2 linked regions of the Homo sapiens genome follow. The protein of the gene in region 1 interacts with the protein of each later gene in a pairwise test. Each region holds a gene or a part of one and is shown on either strand. Other genes may lie near its edges.

Region 1 (3,650 bases):
TATATATAGATATCTATATCTAGATATATATTTGAGCAAATTAGTGGTCAGACTAAGAATAAACCAACTTCCCAACAGTGGTTTTCTTTTCCTATTTATCTATTTTGAAAAAGCCTTGTGAGGAAAGATTAAATAGCTAAATTGGCTGTGGCAATGACTGAGAAAGAAAATGGAAAAACAAAAACCAGAAAATTTTGAACTATTTTCTGATTCAACAGCTGTCCACTTTCTTCTCAGGTTCCTCGATCTAAGTAGCCACCTAGACCTCCTCCCGTTCACACCTTGGGGCAGGGGCCTGATGGGCAGGCAAATGGCCAAATAGCAGCAGTGGGAACCTAAGAGATGGGGAACCTAATGGGGAGACCACCAAAACCAAGAACTAGGCATCGTGCCAGGCACGATGGCAGTCAAGCCAGCAAAGCAGCCATGACTTCCATTGTTTGGTCCTTTCCCAAATATTCTGAACTAGTTGGCTGTGCACAGAAGAACTCAGGATCCAGAAAGGGCAAACTTTACATTTAAGCAATTAAATTAAAACCCAGTCATTCACATCAGATTTTGAGGTACACAAACATTTGTGAGCAGAAGACAAGTCAAAGTTCTGGTGGGAAATTCTGGTGGGAACACTTTGTTAAGTCTGTTGAAAAAAATGAGTTACAAAACCAATACTCAAGGGCCCTCAATGGCCAAAAAACAAAAGCAGCTCACAGGCCCAGTCCCAGAGACATGGGCAATGTTAATTCTCTCCTTGCTTACCTACAGAAAAGCATCAGAACAAGGCCTGCCTTGAAGAAAGAGGAGGGAAACAAACCGCAGTTCAGGCCACATAAGCAGCTTGCGATTTCTTTCCCTGTCTTCTGCCTACCACTCAGTGTTATAAAATAAACCGGAGAGACAGTAGAGGTTAGGCTAAAGGGTTATTCTCTAATTCTGTATTCTCTGGGGAGCATCCGAGAGGAGCCCAGAGGGCTCATGGTCACTAGTCAGCTCTCTCAGACCCCGTAGAACAATTTTAGGGAGGTACCACCATGTCTTTAGTTCACAGTTAAAAAAGAAGGCCACAGAGGAAGGTTGCCAATGTTCTACCATCTCCTCCAGTCAACAGCCACAATCAGCCCTAGGATAGTTTACTTATTACTTACGATAAGGATTTTTAAAGGTACCATGAAAAATTATGAAAGACTTTTATATGGGCATTAAAAATTACAGGGTGTCCTGTCTAGGGCACCCTTCCAGGCTATCTCTGACTTTGTCTTGAAGCTGTTTTACAACCCTGTAAGTTGTAGAAAACTGACAGTAATACAAATGGTTTTTTTTTTTTTCCAGAGAAATGAAGATGAACTGTGTCACAGATGCAGTGGATTACTGACTGCCCTTGTAATAGTCCATTTTGCATCTGTTGGTAATTCATTGAGGCACTCTTGGTTTTCTATGAGTTTGTATTTTTTGAATTCAAGAATTGTAACATCACTGTTAGATCCCTCCTTATTTAATGAGAGAAATAAAATATTTGACACGAGAAAATTTTATATTTGTATCCCAATTATGCTTTTACCTTCTTAAAAATATCTTTTAACAAAGGCTTCAGTGCTTCAGATAATTTTTAAAAACAGAAAAACAACAAAATCAGAGAAGAAAAATAGGAGAGAACTGAGCTAAGCTGGCACGAGGAGACATGCTTGCTCACATGACTTCTCAACCAAGACCAAAGGGCTAAGAGAATCCTTTCCCTTTGCTTCCAAAACCAGATATTTCACAAGGAAACAAAATGCACTAAAAATATCTCATGCTTGATACTTGGGGAAACAGCAGTAAATCTTAAGCTTTAAGGATTTACTGGTATAACCTTTATGAAAACTCAAACCTTCAGGTTCATCAAAGACAACATGTTGGGGGTGATTGTTTTATTACAAAAAGATCCAATTAAAGGTTTACCTTTAAGGAGCTGTCAGAATGCATTTTCAACAGACTTGTAGAACCTGTAATTTGAGGGTCCTGTACAGAAAGAGTCCCCTGTAAGAAGCAGGATTCTCACCATCTGCACACAGGCCCTCATTCTATCTTGGCCTCTAGGCTGCAAGCAGAAGCACAGGCTTTCTACAATAAAACACTTGGAAAGCTCCGAGCCCATGGCAATACTGGCAGTGAAAACTGAAGAAGTGGCCAGCACATCACTGTCCCCTGCTTCGCCCCACCAGGCCACGTCTACCACATCCTGTCCCTATCTCCCCACTTCTCATATATATACAAAACCTCCAGGGCAGCCAGGTGCGATGGGGCTCATGCCTGTAATCCCAGCACTTTGGGAGGCCAAGGCGGGCAGATCACTTGAGGTCAGGAGTTCAAGACCAACCTGGCCAACATGGTGAAACCACGTCTCTACTAAAAATACAAAAATTAGCTGGGTGTGGTGGTTGGTGCCTGTAGTCCCAGCTCCTCAGGAGGCTGAGGCAGGAGAAAAGCTTGAACCTGGGAGGTGGAGGTTGCAATGAGCCAAGATCGCGCCGCTGCACTCCAGCCTGAGCTACAGGGCGAGACTCCGTCACACACACACACACACACACACACACACACACACACACACACACACAACCCTCCAGCTCCTGGAAGAGACCTCCACACAACTCAGCTTCCTGCCTTGAGGAAGAAGGTCACTAAGCATGTCGCCTTGGTTATGTCTCCTAGGTAATCAAGGAGCTCCTCTATCTACAGCCTAGCATCAGGCATGAGCTGTGTGCAGTGATGTGGGTCAGGTGTGGTGGGATAAGTAAGGAGGAGAGCGGCTCAGGGGTAGGTGTGGCAAACTGCACCCCATACTCCGGAGCAGCATACTCCGGAGATGCTGAAGATCCAGGGACCACAGAGATACTGCTCAGCCCCGGACCCTGCTCATATCAGCCCACAGAAAATAGCAAACACCCGGCACCTTCCCGCATGGGCACCACTGGGCACTGATTGGGTGTTTCAATCTGGCTTGGCCAGCCTCTTCGCGGGGTCCCACACCAGCAGAATGGCCCAACCGGCTTAGTAGACATCCACCAGGCACAGCTCCTCAGCCTCCTGTTACAGCTTTCTCGACTCTCCAATCTCCAGGGCCTTTGCACCCTCAGTTACACTCCCAACATCTCTTCCAACATCACAGAGGGGCGGTCAGGAGCCTCTTTGCCCAGGGAGGCAATCTCACTGTCTGCTGAGAACCTCCATTCTGACTGTTTCAGACTGTTTCCTGATTCTTACTGCGTCCTTGGGCAATGAGACCTAAGAAGGCGCTTCTTCCCACTGTGTGGAAGGGAGGCGGTTCACACCCACCAACGTCAGGGAGGCTGTCGTGAGCAGCTCCTCACCTGCCATCCCAGGCTCATATCCACTGTGAACCAGGAGAAGGGCTGGCCCTGCGTCGTGTCCTCTCCAGCAGCCACCTGGGGCTAGTTCAGAAACAGTTCGTGCCTCTCATTTCCAAGTCACATTTCCCTCTTCCTCTGTCTGAGCTCTTTCAGCAGACATCAGAAAAGCCAATTTCTCCCTCCCAGGATGCCAGCCCTCCTCTCTCAGAGGATGAAAAGCTATCACCTTCCCATAAAGGCTACTTCAGTGCCAAAACAGCTGAGGCTGAAGGGGTCCTATGCTGCCCAAGCTCCCCAGCTGGAGAG
Region 2 (3,650 bases), on another chromosome or scaffold:
TACAGGCATGCGCCACCACGCCCAGCTAATTTTGTATTTTTAGTAGAGATGGGGTTTCTCCATGTTGGTTAGGCTGGTATCGAACTCCTGACCTCAGGTGATCCCCCGCCTCAGCCTCTCAAAGTGCTGGGATTACAGGCGTGAGCCACCTGGCCCGGCTGATTTGTTTTTGTTTCTTTTTGAAACAGAGTCTAGCTCTGTCACCCAGGCTGGAGTACAGTGGTGTGATCTCAGCTCACTGAAGCCTCCAACTCCCAGGATTCTTGTGTCTCAGCCTCCCGAGTAGCTGGGATTACAGGCGTGCACCACCACGTCAGGCTAATTTTTGTATTTTTAGTAAAGACAGGGGTTTCACTATGTTGGCCAGGCTGGTCTCAAACTCCTGACCACAGGTGATCCACCTGCCTTGGCCTCCCAACATGCTAGGATTACAGGTGTGAGCCATCGCACACAGCCAACTCTTTTCTTGAAGCATTCCTCTCTCAACTTCTCAGACACTAGGGTTTCATTCCTTCTGCCTGACTCCTTGCTTCTCGGTCTCCTTACATCATTCCTTTTCCTCTGCTATCTCCCTATACACTATTTCCCACTCCCTTCCCCCACTTCTTATGCCAGCCCTTTTTCAGTCTTACTAAAATCATTTTCAGCGTGTGGTCTCATCTACTTTTTAAAATACCTTCATTGAGGTACAACTGACATACAATAAACTGCACATATTTAAAATATACAATCTGAAAAATTTCAGGATATGTACACACCCCTGAAACCATCAGCACAATCAAGATAAGTAAACATAAAAAGCCTCTCCCTAAACAACCACTGATCTGCACTAGTTTGCACCTTCTAGAATGTTCTATAAGTAGACTCATATAGTATATACTCTTTTTTGGTTTCCCTTCTTTCATTGAGTATAATTATTTTGAGATTCAGCCATGTTGTCATTTGTATCAAATTTGTTCTCTCTCTTTTTTTTTTTTTTTTTTTTTTTTTTGAGACAGGGTCTCATTTTTTTGCCCAGGCTGGAGTGCAATAGCACAATCACACCTCACTGCAGCCTTGACCTCTCAGACTCAAGCAATGCTCCCACCTCAGCCTCCCAAGCAGCTGGGACTACAGGCTCATGCCACCACACCTGGCTAATTTTTTTAAATGTTTTGGCTAATTTTTTAAGTTTTTTGTAGAGACAGGGTTTCATTATGTTGCCTAGGCTGGCCTGGAACTCTTGGGCTCAAGTAATCCTCCCACTTTGGCCTCCTAAAGTGCTGGGATTACAGGTGTGAGCCACCACACCCAGCCAGTTTGTTCCTTTTTATTGCTGAGTAGTATTCCACTGTTTGTATCACAATTTGCTTATTCATTCACCTGTTGACGAACATTGGATTTTTTCCAGTTTTTGACTGAAAAGAGATGCCATGAACATTCATGTATAAGTCTTTGTATAAGCTTCATCTATATTTATGGCTTTACTTACACATCTAGAAGTTCCAAATCTGCTTCATCAGATACCAACAACCAATAGTATTCCACTGTTTGTATCACAATTTGCTTATTCATTCACCTGCTGACGAACATTGGATTGTTTCCAGTTTTTGACTGAAAACAGCTGCCATGAACATTCATGTATAAGTCTTTGTAGAGGCTTCATCTATATTTATGGCTTTACTTACACATCTAGAAGTTCCAAATCTGCTTAATCAGATACCAACAACCAATAGCCAGTTGGAGAAGTTCACTTGAATAACCCAAACTTTTAAGTCAACATTTCCAAAAATCATCTTATTATGCCACTCCTCTCTCCATCCTAAGAGCTTCTCCTACATTCTCTATCCTGACTAAAGACAATCAAGTCAGAAACAAGACTATTCCTGTTCCATTACCATTCCCCCAATCACTCAGTGAGTTACTAGATCCTGTCAATTTTGCCTTGTAAACTTCTTTCAAATAAAATCCACATCCATATTTCCATCCTTGTTCAAATGCACCCTTAGTTCAAATGTGTATTATCTCTTGACTGGACTATTAAACTAGGCTTCTAACTTTTCTCCTCACTTTACGTCTCATTCTTCTCCAAACCATTTTCCATTCTATGGCCAAAGTGAATTTTCTAAAATTAAAATGTGCTGTTACTCCCCTACTTAAAACTTATTGGCTGGGCACAGTGGCTCACCCTGTAATCCTAGCACTTTGGGAAGCTGAGGCAGGCAGATGGCTTGAGCCCAGGAGTTCAAGACCAGCCTGGTGAAACCCCATCTCTACAAAAAATACAAAAATTATCTGGATGTGGCAGTGTGCCTACAGTCTCAGGAGGCTGAGGTGGGAGGATAGCTTAAGCCCAGGAGGTGGAGGCTGCAGTGAGCCAAGATCGCACCACTGCACTCCAGCCTGTTAAGACTCTGTCTCAAAACAAACAAACAAAACAAAAACAAACAAAAGAAACTTTATCAATGGCTTCTAATTACCCAAGAAAAAATTTAAATTCCTTAGCTTAACATATATAAAAACTGTTCATAAACCAGTTGTCTCTCCAGACATGCCCTGCCACTTCCCATCATGTTCTAATTTAGTCTTTTCTGATTATGTCATTTACTTTTTTTTTTTTTTTTTGAGACAGAGTTTTGCTCTTGTTGCCCAGGTTGGAGTGCAGTGGTGCAATCTCGCCCCACTGCAACCTCCGTCTTCCGGTTTCAAGCTATTCTCCTGCCTCAGCCTCCCGAGTAGCTGGGATTACAGGTGCCCACCACCACGCCAGGCTAATTTTTGTATTTTTTAGTAGAGATGGGGTTTCACCACGTTGGCCAGGCTGGTCTTGAATTCCTGACCTCGTGATCCGCCCACCTTGCTCTCCCAAAGTGCTGGATTACAGGCGTGAGCCACTGCGCCCGGCCCTGTCATTTACCTTTTTAGCCTGAGTGTCAAGGGCAATACCTGGTCTATAGTAGGCATGATATATTTGTGCAATAGATAAGATAGGACTTAGACTCATAGATGCGGTGAAACAGATACAGTGGGACATTCCAGCCATATTCAGGAAAAGTAGCAGTCCGGACTGGCTAAAGCAAAAAGGAGATAAAAGGTTATGGTAGACAATCCAGTCAGAAAAGCAGGATGAAGCCAAATATCAATTGCTGTTAATTCTATGCTAAAAAGTGCACTTTAGCATAGGTTGAACTCAAAAGACATCAACAATTCTGAGTGTGACATGTTCAGAAGTGTCCTATAACTGGTGAGATTTGAAAAACAGAAGGTGAGGTGGGGGCCAGTGAACCCCATTAAGAAGTTATCACAGTAGTCTGACAAAGGAGACTCAATTAGAGAAGTCGGAGGAGGAATAGACTAGAAGAACATGTCAAAGGGAAATGAACATACAGGCTCTACCTGAGTGTGCACAGTAATACAAAGAAGCCAGAGATGACCCCAACATTTTAAACCAGTCAAATGTAACAATAAAGCCATTAATCGAGAAGAAAAACTGAAATGACAGGTGGAGGAGAGAAGTGATAGTTTTAGTTTGTATATCCCCTCACCTATTTATTCAAATTGAGTGCCTACCAGATGTCAAGCACTATAAGTATGGGGAATAAAATGTGGGTAAGATATCATCCCTGTTCTCAAGGAGCATCCAATCTAGTTATAGGCAAGTAAATAGGAAC

What was found. Proteins that work in one complex are often made in the same cells at the same time.
Region 2: the proteins of SH3BP5 (region 1) and SOS1 interact in a two-hybrid assay, tested with the Homo sapiens proteins (2 studies listed by BioGRID and IntAct).

The regions. Positions count from the first base shown.
Region 1 is NC_000003.12:15,262,970-15,266,619, forward strand, and holds part of SH3BP5 (SH3 domain-binding protein 5), read right to left. Parts: intron 1,530-3,650; exon of another isoform or gene 1,327-1,529; intron 1-1,326. UniProt on the Homo sapiens protein: Functions as a guanine nucleotide exchange factor (GEF) with specificity for RAB11A and RAB25. Inhibits the auto- and transphosphorylation activity of BTK. Plays a negative regulatory role in BTK-related cytoplasmic signaling in B-cells.
Region 2 is NC_000002.12:39,114,442-39,118,091, forward strand, and holds part of SOS1 (son of sevenless homolog 1), read right to left. Parts: intron 1-3,650.